Regions from separate parts of the Homo sapiens genome. Here region 2 is linked to region 1. Evidence: fine-mapped expression QTL. Tissue or cell type: whole blood. Region 1 holds a variant in brackets; the other region holds the start of a gene. All regions are shown on one strand. Distances are from middle to middle.

The links. PIP is the estimated chance that this variant, and not a neighbour inherited with it, causes the effect.
Region 2: SOX4 starts here. The variant in region 1 is fine-mapped to the expression of SOX4 in whole blood (TOPMed, PIP 0.94).

What each region holds. Positions count from the first base shown.
Region 1 is chr6:22,309,295-22,317,789 of GRCh38, forward strand. No RefSeq gene overlaps it. Among named protein-coding and RNA genes, the nearest start is that of PRL, 17 kb to the left of the region's middle. RefSeq lists an enhancer at 4,461-5,015. The variant C/G (reference allele first, on the strand shown) is at 5,111.
Region 2 is chr6:21,589,239-21,595,494 of GRCh38, forward strand. It overlaps SOX4 (SRY-box transcription factor 4), which reads left to right and starts at 4,513. Exons shown (of 1, transcript NM_003107.3): 1 at 4,513-6,256. The coding sequence starts at 5,297. RefSeq lists enhancers at 1-66, 77-126 and silencers at 5,124-5,303, 6,074-6,163, 6,214-6,256.

The sequences.
Region 1 (8,495 bases):
CAATGACTGCATCCACGTTTTACCTATCCACTCTTCCAGAGTGCATCTTACTGCCTGTCCTGCTATACACAGTACTGTATTACACATTTCTGTATGTGCCTTTATGTGAAAGAGTGATAGAACATTCTCTTATAAAGAAATTGAAATTGGAGGTCTAGTGACAATTGTGACTAAGTCAGTGCATTACAGATCCCCTTGGCCTATTACAATTTCAGTCGTACAATTCAGTGATAACACACACAGAATATACTGAAAAGAAACAATGCAAAAGGATTTCATTAAGAGTGCAATTCCAATGGTTATTCTATTGGAACTAAATTGATTCACTTGTTTAGATTTGATTGAGGTGACAGTCACTGTCTTAAAAATGAATATTAATGCATTTGAGTTCTTGTCAACATTTTAGTAGTTGCTCTAGAGATTACAATATATACCCATAGTTTTTCCCAGGCTAGTTAACATTAATAATGTTCCATGTCACATAAAATATAGCAACTTTGCAATTGTATAGGTCTATTTACCTCTCCTCATCCTTTCTACTATAGTTGTCATATGGATTACATATATATATATATATATATATATATATATATATATATATATATATATATATGTTGTGCAGCTCATAAAAACTACAGTTTTTCTTCACAGACTGTGAAAATAGTTTTATATATTTACCATTTCTGGTGTTTTCCATTCCGTCCTAAAGGTCCAAATTTACTTCTGCTATTATTTTCCCTCGGCTGAAAAACATGCATTAGCATTTCTTATATTACAAGTGTACTTATGACAAATGCTGTCAGTTTTTAAAATCTAAAAAAGGATTTTGTCTTTATTGTTATTTATTTATTTATGTATTTTTTTGAGATGGAGTCTCGCTCTGTTGCCCAGGCCAGAGTGCAGTGGTGTGATCTTGGCTCACTGCAAGCTCCGCCTCCCGGGTTCATGCCATTCTGCCTCAGCCTCCCGAGTAGCTGGGACTACAGGTGCCCACCACCACGCCCGGCTAATTTTTTGTATTTTTAGTAGAGACAGGGTTTCACTGTGTTAGCCAGGATAGTCTCTATCTCCTGACCTCGTGATCCGCCTGCCTCGGCCTCCCAAAGTGCTGGGATTACAGGTGTGAGCCACTGCGCCCAGCCCTTGTCTTTATTGTTAAGAGATAGCTTTGCTAGATGAAAATTATTAGTTCATTTTTTTTCTCTTCAAGCACTTTGAGTATGTTATGCCAATGTCTTCTGGCATCCATAATTTAGGATGAGAAGTCATTTGTTAACTAACCATGATCTCCTATGTGTAATGTATTGTTTTCTTCCTGCTACTTTCAGATATATTTTCTCTTTTTGGGTTTCAAATAGTATGACTATTATGTTCTTAGACATGCTTGTTTTTGAATTTATACTGCTTGAGTTTCACGGAGATTGTCATATCTGTACATCTACTATTTTCACTAATTGGGTAACTTTTTGTTTATTATTTATTTGAATATTTTTGCCCCATTTTCTTTGCTTCTTCAGTAAATTGGACTTTTGTTTTTCTCCCACAGTCCTTAAGGCTGTGGTCATTTTTCAATTTTTTTCTTTCTTCTTCAGGTTAGATAATTTCCATGATCCTATCTTCAAGTGTACTGTTTACTTTGTCACCCCCATTTTCCTGCTAAGCCCTTTCTATTATTTTTTAAAAAAATATAGGTACTAAACTTTTCTGAAATTTTCATTAGGTTTTTTTCCATTCCATTTTTCTGCTGAGATTCCTACTTTTTCATTCATTATGAGCATTTTTTTCTTCATGTCATTTATCATAATTGATGATTGTTTTAAAATTCTTTTCTTGTAGTTCTAACACCTCAGTCATCTATAGCTTGAACTCTGTTGTCTTTTATTCTGATAATGAGTGACAACTTCTTATTTCCTCATATGTCAAGTAATTTTGGATTGCATTCTTGTCATTGTAAATATAGGTTGTCTTTAGATTTTGTTATGGTCTCCTGAAGAGCATCACTGTCATTTGCTTGTTTTAATTGGCAATCGATTTAACAAGATTCAAACTTCAAACTCCATTTCATGTGTGGCAATTCAAAATTTCAGTTCAGCTGTGCTGTTTGGAGTCTGACACACACACACACACACACACACACACACACACACTCTCTCTCTTTCTCTCTTTAGCCAGAAATTTGCATAGAGTTTATACATGGAATTTTGGGCCCCTCCTCCTTTCTGTTTTCTTCCCATCTAGAATTCTTCTTTCACTTTTCAGTGGCTACAATTGTCCAGAATAATTCTGGGGTTCCTACCAGAGTTTTAGCCACTGTGAATGCTGTTATTATAATCTCTCCTCTGGCTAAAAGCCATGCAATATTGGAAAATCATCCTTGCCATTCCTTTTTCTGAATGTTGACTCTCCTCTGCCTTTTTTTTTCCTTTTGGTGTCACTCTCCAGTATATTTAAGTAGATTTCTGCTTGTTTATCTTTTCCTTCCTTTCCCCTTTCTCCTCTCTCCATTCCTTCTTTCTTTCTTTCCTCTCCCTTTTCTCCTCTTCTCTGCTCTTTCCTCCCTCACTTCTTGCTTGCTTCCTTCCTTTCATTCTCTCTCCTTTCTTTCTCTGTTTCATTTGTTTCATTCCTTCTTTTCTCCTTCCTTCCCTCTTTCTCGCATTCCCTCTCTTCTCTGTTTCTTTCTTCCTTTCTTTTATTTCACCAGAATTCATCATTGTTATCAGCAGAAGGATAGGGTATGCTAGGAGATTCAAGTCCATGCAAATTTCAGGATGATAACCAATGCTTCTTTGAAATCCAACAAAAACAAATATTTTAATATTCTACACTGAATAATAGCTATGTTCTCATAGTTATAAGATAAACCACGTGTATTAGTCCATTTTCACACTGCTTATAAAGACATACCCAAGACTGGGTAATTTATAAAGAAAAAGGTTTAATGGACTCACAGTTCCACATGGCTGGGGAGGCCTCATAATCATGCCAGAAGACAAAGGAAGAGCAAAGGGACTTCTTATATGGATGTGGATAGACAGAATGAGAGCCAAGTGAAAGCAGAAACCCCTTATAAAATAATCAGATTTCGTGAGACTTATTCACTACCATGAGACTAGTATGGGGGAAACCACCCCCATGTTTCAGTTATCTTCCACTGGGTCCCTCCCATAACACTTGGGAGTTATGCGAGCTACAATTCAAGATGAGATTTGGGTGGGGACACAGCCAAACCATATCATCATGATCTATTTTATATAAAATAGTGTTTTAGTTGGATAAGAAATAATTTCCAATAGCATTTTAAAAACTATACTAGGCTGTTCTTGCATCACTATAAGGGAATACCTGAGACTAGGTAATTTATAAGAAAGGAGCTTTAATTGGCTCACAGTTCTACAGGCTATACAGAAAGCACAGGACCAACATTTGCCTCTGGGCAGTCTCAGAAGCTCACAATCATGGTGGAAGGTGAAAGGGGAACAGGCATTTCACATGGTGGGAGCAGGAGCAATAGAGCAAGGATGGTGGTGGTTGGGGGTGGCAACACACTAAAACAACCAGATCTTAAAAGAACTCACTCAGTATTATGAGGACAGCCCCAAGACATTAGGGATTTACACTCATGGCCTAAATACCTGCACCAGCACCCACCTCCAACATTGGGAATTGCATTTCAACATGAGATTTGGGCAGGGACAAATATCCAGACTATATCATTCCACCCCCCACACCCCAATCTCACATCCTTCTCACATTGCAAAACAATCGTGCCTTCCCAATAGTCTCTCAAAGTCTTAACTAATTGCGGTGTTAACCAAAAGTCCAAAGTCCAAAATGTAATCTGAGACAAGGCAATTCCCTTCCACCTATGAGCCTGTAAAATAAAAACAAGTTATTTACTTCCAAGGTACAAAGGAGGTAACAGGAACCGGGTAAACTTTCTTGTTCCAAAAGGGAGAAATTGGCAAAAAAAAAAAAGGGCCTACAGACCCCATGCTAGTTTGAAACCCAGCAGGGTAGTCATTACATCTTAAAGCCCCAAAATATTCTCCTTTGACTCCTTGTACCACATCCAGGGCACACTGGTGGGAGAGGTGGGCTCCCAAGGCCTTGGGCAGCTCCACTCCTTTGGCTTTACAGAATTCAGACTTCTCCACTGCTCTCACAGGTTGGTGTTGAGTGTCTGTGGCTTTTCCAGGCACAGGGTGTAAGCTGCCAGTAGATCTACAATTCTGGGGTCTGGAAGATGGTGCTCTTCTTTCCACAGCTCCACTAGGCAGTGCCCCAGTGGGGACTCCATGTGGGGTGCTCCAACCCCACATTTCCCCTTGGCACTGCCCTAGTAGAGGTTCTCTATTAGGGCTGTCCCCCTCCAGCAGGCTTCTGCCTGGGCACCCAGGCTTTTTTATATATTCTCTGAAAATCTAGGTGGAGGCCATCAAGCCGCCTTCACTCTTGTACTCTGCATGCCTGAAGGCTTAACACCACAGGGAATCTGCCAAGGCTTATAGCTTGCATTCTCTAACGTGGCAGCCTGACTATACCTGGACCCCTTTGAGCCATGGCTGGAGTTGGAGTGGCCAAGATGTGGGGAGCAGTGTCCTGAGTCTTTGCAGGGTAGCGGGATCCTGAGCCTGCCCCTGCCCCCCAAAAGCATTGTTCCTTCCTAGGCCTCTGGGCCTGTGATGGGAGGGGCTACTGTGAATGTCTCTGAAATGCCTTTGAGTCCTTTTTCCCATTGTCTTGGCTATCAGCATCTGGCTCTTTTTCAGTTATGCAAATCTCTTTAACAAGTGGTTACTCCACAGCCTGCCTGATTTCCTCTCCTGAAAAAGCTTTTTCTTTCTCTGCCACTTGGCCAGTCTGAAAATTTTCAAGCTTTTATGTTCTGCTTTCTGTTTAAATATAAATTCCAAGTTTAAGTCACTTCTTTGCTCCCACATTTGAGTGTAGGCTGTTAAAAGCAGCCAGGTCACATCTTGAATGCTTTGCTGCTTATAAATTTCTTCTGCCAAATACCATAAATCTCACTTTTAAGCTCAAACTTCCACAGATCCTAGGGCATAAACAGAATGTAGCTGAGCTCTTTGCTAAGGCATAATATGCGTGA[C/G]CTTTGCTCCAGTTTCCAGTAAGTTCCTCATTTCTTTTTTTTTTTTAATTATTTTAATTATTTTTTTTTTTTGAGATGGAGTCTCGCCCTTTCGCCCAGGCCAGACTGCAGTGGTGTCATCTTGGCTCACTGCAAACTCCACCTCCCGAGTTCACGCCATTCTCCTGCCTCAGCCTCCCAAGTAGCTGGGACTACAGGCGCCCACCACTGTGCCCGGCTAATTTTTTGTATTTTTATTAGAGATGGGGTTTCACCGTGTTAGCCAGGATGGTCTCAATCTCCTGACCTCATGATCCACCTGCCTCGGCCTCCCAAAGTGCTGGGATTACAGGCATGAGCCACTGTGACTGGCCTAAGTTCCTCATTTCTATCTGAGATCTTATCAGCCTGGATTTCACTGTCCATATCACTATCAGCATTTTGGTCACAACCATTTTACCAGTCTCTAAGAATTTCCAAACGTTCCCTCATTTTCCTGTCTTCTGAGCCTTCCACACTCTTCCAACCTCTACCCATTAACCAGTTCCAAAGCTCCTCCCACATTTTCAGGTTTCTTTATAGCAATGCCCCACTCCTCAATATCAATTTTCTGTTAGGCCGTTCTTGCATTGTTATAAAGGAGTACCTGAGACTGGGCAATTTATAAGAGAAGAGGTTTAATTGACTTACAGTTCTGCAAGCTGTACAGGAGACATAGTGCCAGCATCTGCTTCTGGGGAAGCCTCAGGAAGCTTCCCATCATGGCGGAAGGCAAGCAGGGAGCAAGTGTCTCATATGGTGGCAGCAGGAGCAAGTGAGCAAAAGTAGGGGTGGTGGTGGTTTATTGTGTGCCACAAGAGAGTGGGGGAATTGTTCAAGTGTGTGGCACACATTCAAACAACCAGATCTCACAAAAATTCACCATGATGAGGACAGCACCAAGCCACGAGGGATCTGGCCTTATGGCCCAAACACCTCCCATCAGGCCCCATCTCCAATATGGGGGATACATTTCAACACAAGATTTGGGCAGGGACAAATATCCAAACTATATCAACAACCATTTACTCATTTTACTTTTTTATAGAAAAGATACCAGAGGACAAACAAATTTTTTTGCTATCTAAAGTATTTAATATTCTTATTTGTTTTAAATACCCTTATTTTTAAAGCCTCATTAAAAATATCTCTGAGAAAAAAATTTTGAAAATATGTCTGCCAAGGCTACCACTGTCAGGTCAGCACTAGTTTTCAAGCTGCCATCAACTTTTAATAAACCTTGGTATACTTTTTTGCCCCTAAAATTAGAAAAACAATATTAAGGAGCTGATTTTAGGGTAGAAAAATAACGTAGCTAGTGATCTTTGTAAATAAGTAGAATTTAAGACTTAAGTGAGCAAGAATTTAGCCTGGGCAATGATTGATGGATAAAAGAAATTGTATCATCCTTAATGAGGTCTGATCATGGTTCTTCCAATTTATTAGAAGAGTAGTAATTAAATAATGATAAAATATTAGCACCTACCAGGGTTTCTCTACTCTTAGTCAATTGGGAATGGCCATAGTATCTAAGAACATTGTTATTTATAATGAGGTGATAAAAACAAAATTAATGGCCCTCAAAAGAAAGAATGAGTTGTGATTACAGCCCTTGACATACTAAGAGCTTATTGTGGCAAGGAAAGCGGCATGATAGTTCAGGTAGCATAGATAGGTAGGTCCCCATGTATTTCTGTGTAGATATATATGTGCTGTGCATAAATATAAATATGCATTATATTCTTATATGACACTTTGAGTCTCATCTAAAGTAGATTTTGTATGTGGCAATAAATATATCAGAATATCCTAGGTCCTGATGTAATCAATCATTTTATTGGTAAATGAGCAAATGTATAACTTTGTCCCATGAAAATGTTATTATTATTTATTTATTTATTTTTGAGACAGGTCTCACTCTGTGGCCCAGGCTGGAGTGCAGTGGCATAATCTCAGCTCACTGCAACCTCTGCCTCCGGGGTTCAAACGATTCTCCTGCCTCAGCCTCTTGAGCAGCTGGGATTACAGGCATGCGCCACCACGTCCGGTTAATTTTTGTATTTTTAATAAAGACGGGGTTTCACCATCTTGGCCAGGCTGGTCACAAACTCCTGACCTCAAGTGATCCGCCTGCCTCGGCCTCCCAAAGTGCTGGGATTACAGGCATGAGCCACTGTGCTTGGCCGAAAATGTTACTTTATGAACAAATTACATATATGATTAGCTAATATATCACCAAAGATGGTCTCAATGGCTCTTCCAGACTGTAATCTGAAGACTTCAATAATCAATGGATAAATATGCATGATTTTTATAGTTTAATGAGAAAAATAAACTGACAAATACTATTGTCTTTGATTCAGTGTCACAGCGAGATTTAATCTCTGCCTGCTTTCATTTGCAGATGCCATAGTATACAAGTGTTAAAATTGTGGTGGATCCCAGAAGCGTGCAGACGTGAGTATTGCTTGTCAGTTTTTACTCTGGGTACTGGAGCCTCTTCTGTTTCCTGGTCCATCCAGTCCCCAACTTTCACTCCTCAGCATCCTCTGGTTCTGCACCAGCCTTTGTATTTTAGCTTTCCCCTTTGTCTCCTCTTATTCTTTTGATGAGACTAAAGAGCCTGTTGATGGTTTACTTTTCGGGCCCTTTTGTACTTTGATTTTCCTGATACTCATTAGTGTAGTTGGTCTCAGATCTGCCTCTGCTCCTGAATTTCAGTATCTACGTAAACCCTGCTCAGCCGCTGTTATTCATCGAAATTTTGGCTTTCACCTTCATTGTACTTTTTATGGACTTAGTTTTCCTTCTGGGCAGTTTCTGGTATACACACTAAGCTTGTTCCTCACACCTGGCTTGTTCTTGGCTTCTTAAGTAACTTTGAGAACTTTGCTTTGTCTTTTAAGCTATGCCATCCCTCATTATGATCCTACTGCTGACTCTAATTACATTTTCTGTCTTTGTCTTTATCACCATAACTTCAATACCATGTGCCTCTATTTCGGTATTAGTTTTTGGTATTTGGTATTAACCTAATAAGCCAGATAATTAAAAGTAATAAAAAACAGCAGTCATAATACATATCCTCTGGAATGATATAATCCATGTGCTACCATTTTTTCATGATTAAGTACCCATCTATATTATTGATGTCTCTTGCTTATTATCCCTGATTATATTGTGTCTGGAATTGGTGGGTTCTTGGTCTTGCTGACTTCAGGAATGAAACCGCAGACCCTCGTGGTGAGTCTTACAGTTCTCAAAGAAGGTGTGTCTGGGGTTTTTTCCTTCAGATGTTCAGATGTGTCCAGAGTTCCTTTCTTCTGGTGGGTTCGTGGTCTCCCTGACTTCAGGAGTGAAGCTGCAG
Region 2 (6,256 bases), 720 kb before region 1:
AAAAAAATCAGAATTCATCGACATACCCTGTTACTCGTTGAGCGTTTAAGCCTCTAACTAAAGAAGGTACAGTGGTAGGGAGTGGTAGGGGGGTCGGGAGAGGAGGAAGGGGGAGAAGAAAGAAGACTGACTATCCCCACGATTTCCTACCTCGCCTCGCGGGCGCAGGGAGGCTCAGCGATGCCACCTGGCGGCTGCTTCTCCCCAGATTGGGAGCCGGCTGGCTGCAGACAAACCCAGGCTCTCCCCGGGTGCCGTGCCTCTGCCTCTAGAATAGAAGCAGAAGCCTGTATTCATGCTTGCAATCCAAGTGGCCCTGCAAACATTCGTCTTCTGCTTGTTTTCTTGAGAAAATCGAAGGAAAGGAATAATGAGTTGGCATTGGCATGAACAGCTTAAGCCTACTGTGTGCTAGTCACTGGTTATGAGAGGAAAATGGTACAATTGTTAGAAATGCAGGTTTCTTAACTCTTAGCTTATTCTAGTGATAAAAATAAATGCTAGGTTTCATTTACCCCAGAATCCTATTTTGATATTTTGCAAATATGAGTTATTTCCATATATTATTTTTCAATGCACGCACCCCCACCCCCATTACGCGCTGAGCCCAGTTACAATGCAATGTCATCAGCCCAAAAGGATGAAGTGCAAGTTATGTTTGTCTACTTGACTGAGAAGTAAATCAGCCTCACATGGAGGCTTCTTTTCCATAAAGTGTGGAACCAAAAAAACTGGCGCCTTTCAGTTGACAAAGGCCAATGACATCAGATTTCCCAGGGCTTCTTCCTTGTCAGGTAAAGTAACAACTACACAGTTTTTCCTCCTCTTTATTTTATTTGAACTGAATACTTGTCAGGTCTGACTAGCGCCTACAATCATAGTTTCTATAACCAAGGCAAGGCAAAATCTTGCAAATCAGTGCAAATCCAGATTTGTTAAACTAATTTCCATTCAGGTCCCTCCCTCCATGCCAAAGGAATATATTAAGCAGTGGAATAGAATCTTATTTCATCTATGCCCCATACCATTGTATGGATGTGAGATTTTATGTTGTGTAGATGTGTGAGAGCAGAAGAAATGCATTAGCAGATATTACACTTACATCTCAAATGGAATTCCATCATTTAAGGGAATAAAATAAAATACCTAATTCAAAATTGGAAATGTCTAACATCATTGCTAACAAAGACAGTTTATTATTCTAAACCAGGATTTTTTTTTTCTGCAAAATTATCTTGGCTTTCTCTTAATACAGCTAAAAGACTAGCATTAAGAATTACTTCATGTACTGCAAAGCCAGCAGAGGGAACACTGCGTACTGATTTAGTAGGGGCCACCAAATATCTGGTATTTGGGGAAAAAAATGTCAGTAATGGAGAACTGATTACAGAGCATATGAAGTTAGGGAATGAGAAGGGAGAAATCTTTTCTCATTATTTGGTATTGAGAGGTCCAACACATTCCAGTGTGCACACACTTAGTTGGTCACAAAGATGACTTTAATAAAAGGGCATTCGTCATATGTTTTCTTACATTCTAAGAGAACTAACCCATTAGAACAGATCTATTTCAGAAGTCTAGGCACTTGTGTAATATATAAATATATATGCAGTAATTATAAAGTCAATGGAAGTTACTGATACCATATTTCATCAAGTCTAAGAGGAAATTTTTCTTTTCATTTCAACTCTTCCTGAAATAAGGAGGCATCCTACATCTAGGGGGATATCACAGTTTCATTGGCAGCTTTCTTCCTTGGTGGAATGTAATATAATGGTGTGTCTTAAAATTTGTTGGATTTGTTGAAATACAGAAAATACATGTAACAAAAGAATGAGGCCAGTGGCTGTGTTTTAGTACACCCTTTAAAAAATCCATGTGTTTTAAGCAGAAACATATATGACTGCTTTAACTTCCACTCTTCCCTATCATATTCGATGATGGAAGCATAAATGACTGAGAAATATAATCAATAATGTTGATACTCAACTTGACTGAATTATCAAACTAGCTACACCCTCAAATCATTAGTTAGTACAAATTCAAAAATAAATATTCTTTTTTATTCTAGTGAAAATATTGATCTTATAGATAATAGCCCTCTTAAAATAATTTTTTTTTGTCAGATTGGTAACATTTAAGGATGTGTTTCTATGCACACCAGAGAAAATGTAGTATATAACACAGCAACACTGTTATGCAAAAAAGGTGCCTGTGTGTTTTTGGTTTGGGTTTTTCTTTTTTTAAGGATTTGTTTCTCCTTTTTTAAAAAAATTATGTAATACAAGTAGCTAATCGTCAAAAATTATTTGCTTTTACCCACAAAAACAGTTTTGCTTGTGGTTGATCCTTACAGATCCAGTCAGATGGCTACATAGGGTGTTCTTTCCAGTAAAATTCTAAGTCTGACAACCTGGGCCTATTGCCAGCCTACATACTTTAAAAGTTTGACAAGATACATAGAAATTTACTACCCAGCACTAGTTTAATCTGAATCAAAAGCCGACTTAATTATTTTGGATTGACTTTACCTAACCACTTATGGTTAGCCTGAAGAATATTAGTTTCCTATTATAGTGTTAAGGAAAGCTGATTTTTACTACAATTCTAATTTTCAGACACTGGAAAACAAGTAATTTCTGTAGCCAACGTTTATTTTGAATACCTTGGCATCCTTTCTTTGCCACATTCTTCTTAGTATTCTTCATGGAGTTCCTTTCTTTTAAAATCAATGGAATGGCAGGGTTGCCACTATTGTCCTTCTATGGTTCACATCAATGATCTGTGATTACTTTTTTTTTTTTTTTGAGATAGTCACACGCTATCACCCACACTGGAGTGCAGTGGCTCAATCTTAGCTCACTGCAACCTCCTGGGTTCAAGCAATTCTCCCGCCTTAGCTTCTCGAGTAGCTGGAATTACAGGCGCATGCATCCCTGCCCAGCTAATTTTTTAATTTTTTAATTTTTAGTAGAGACAGGGTTTCACCATGTTGACCAGGCTGGTCTCGAACTCCTGACCTGAAGTGATCCACCCACCTTAGCCTCCCAAAGTGCTGGGATTACAGGCGTGAGCCACCGCGTCCTGCCTGTTATTACTTTTTTACATAAGTGGCTATTCTGTTTTAGCCTCTTGAACAACATGCAGCTTTTACTAGGAGTGTGTCTGGCATTTGAATTAGAAAGGAAGATATTAGTATTCATTGAGGGCTTACAATACATCAGGTGCTTCATAGTCACAAATTCATTGAACCCTCACAACAACCCTCTATAAAGTAGCTCCTAGTGTTCCCATATAATAGATGAGGAAAACTGAGACTTGGCCACATCCCCATAGTTACAAACCATTAAGAAGGATTAGCAGCCAGGTCTACTATGAATCCGGAGGCCCCATTCTCTTCTGCTACCAGTTATCACCTCCTTCTACAGTTTCTCTTTGCCTTGGTTTTTCAGTTCCCTTCGATTCAAGTAACAAGAGGAAATATATAAGAAGGAAAGGAGGAAGATGGCTTTGGGAGGAGGAGAGGGAAGAGAGTGAAGCAATCTTTAATTTTGAAAACAGGGAAAACAAATATTTAGAAAGTAAAACCGATTTCCATCCTTTACATGCCATTATACATCCTATACAAAACTCTGGAAATCTGCCTATTGAGGTAATTACGGAGCACTACCTAATGTGTTTCAAGGGAAAGCTCCCCTGTTTGGGCTATGCAGGATTTACAGGGAGTTTAAATCATTAAATAACCATAGTTGACCCTTGCTTGGTTAAGAGAGTAAGCAATTATTGCAAAGTCCTCTTCCCTGCCTTCCACAAACAGCACAAAAACGGTTCTGAAGGGATTTACACAATACATCAACATCTGTGCTGTACCTAGAGTTGTTAAAATAATTGTGATGACAGGTGTCTAGGTACCACTTTCTTAATGGTTTTCAATATCCATTGATTTATTGTTTTGTGGCTTTCTCTTCCCCTTTACAGCTTTGGCTTTAAGAAAGAGCTGGGGAACAGATTTTGCACCAGAGGCTGATTCTTTATTCCAATGCTGAAAAGAACTAATAAAAATAATCACTTGGCTTTTAAGCAGAAAGCTTCCATTTACAGTATTTCACCCTTACCCCGCCCCGTTCCAAGCCCCTTGTTATCTAACATAATGGTTAGAATACATTTCCGTCTCTCCCCTTAATAATTTCATGCATTAACATCCTCTTCACACACTATACACACACGCACGCGCGCACACACACGCGCGCGCACACACACAGCAAAAGGAAAAAAGAGGCAGCAGAAATCTCAGCTGTACTTCTAGCCCTTTTAAAAAGTTTGCTCTGTAAATTGGAATGAGGTCAGATTTGGAGCTTCTCATTGCACGCGGAGATTATTATTGCATCGGGTTCCAAGCCAATGGGAAGCCCGGGGGAGGGGTTTGGCATGAGGAAGCGTTGGTTACAGCAGCTGATTGGCTGCAGCCAAGACTGTGAAAGGATAAAGAGGCGCGAGGCGGAATTGGGGTCTGCTCTAAGCTGCAGCAAGAGAAACTGTGTGTGAGGGGAAGAGGCCTGTTTCGCTGTCGGGTCTCTAGTTCTTGCACGCTCTTTAAGAGTCTGCACTGGAGGAACTCCTGCCATTACCAGCTCCCTTCTTGCAGAAGGGAGGGGGAAACATACATTTATTCATGCCAGTCTGTTGCATGCAGGCTTTTTGGCTTCCTACCTTGCAACAAAATAATTGCACCAACTCCTTAGTGCCGATTCCGCCCACAGAGAGTCCTGGAGCCACAGTCTTTTTTGCTTTGCATTGTAGGAGAGGGACTAAGTGCTAGAGACTATGTCGCTTTCCTGAGCTACCGAGAGCGCTCGTGAACTGGAATCAACTGCTTCAGGGAAAAAGAAAAAAAAAAAAAAAAGACTTGCCTGGGAGGCCGCGAGAAACTTGCATTGGAAGCTTCAGCAACCAGCATTCGAGAAACTCCTCTCTACTTTAGCACGGTCTCCAGACTCAGCCGAGAGACAGCAAACTGCAGCGCGGTGAGAGAGCGAGAGAGAGGGAGAGAGAGACTCTCCAGCCTGGGAACTATAACTCCTCTGCGAGAGGCGGAGAACTCCTTCCCCAAATCTTTTGGGGACTTTTCTCTCTTTACCCACCTCCGCCCCTGCGAGGAGTTGAGGGGCCAGTTCGGCCGCCGCGCGCGTCTTCCCGTTCGGCGTGTGCTTGGCCCGGGGAACCGGGAGGGCCCGGCGATCGCGCGGCGGCCGCCGCGAGGGTGTGAGCGCGCGTGGGCGCCCGCCGAGCCGAGGCCATGGTGCAGCAAACCAACAATGCCGAGAACACGGAAGCGCTGCTGGCCGGCGAGAGCTCGGACTCGGGCGCCGGCCTCGAGCTGGGAATCGCCTCCTCCCCCACGCCCGGCTCCACCGCCTCCACGGGCGGCAAGGCCGACGACCCGAGCTGGTGCAAGACCCCGAGTGGGCACATCAAGCGACCCATGAACGCCTTCATGGTGTGGTCGCAGATCGAGCGGCGCAAGATCATGGAGCAGTCGCCCGACATGCACAACGCCGAGATCTCCAAGCGGCTGGGCAAACGCTGGAAGCTGCTCAAAGACAGCGACAAGATCCCTTTCATTCGAGAGGCGGAGCGGCTGCGCCTCAAGCACATGGCTGACTACCCCGACTACAAGTACCGGCCCAGGAAGAAGGTGAAGTCCGGCAACGCCAACTCCAGCTCCTCGGCCGCCGCCTCCTCCAAGCCGGGGGAGAAGGGAGACAAGGTCGGTGGCAGTGGCGGGGGCGGCCATGGGGGCGGCGGCGGCGGCGGGAGCAGCAACGCGGGGGGAGGAGGCGGCGGTGCGAGTGGCGGCGGCGCCAACTCCAAACCGGCGCAGAAAAAGAGCTGCGGCTCCAAAGTGGCGGGCGGCGCGGGCGGTGGGGTTAGCAAACCGCACGCCAAGCTCATCCTGGCAGGCGGCGGCGGCGGCGGGAAAGCAGCGGCTGCCGCCGCCGCCTCCTTCGCCGCCGAACAGGCGGGGGCCGCCGCCCTGCTGCCCCTGGGCGCCGCCGCCGACCACCACTCGCTGTACAAGGCGCGGACTCCCAGCGCCTCGGCCTCCGCCTCCTCGGCAGCCTCGGCCTCCGCAGCGCTCGCGGCCCCGGGCAAGCACCTGGCGGAGAAGAAGGTGAAGCGCGTCTACCTGTTCGGCGGCCTGGGCACGTCGTCGTCGCCCGTGGGCGGCGTGGGCGCGGGAGCCGACCCCAGCGAC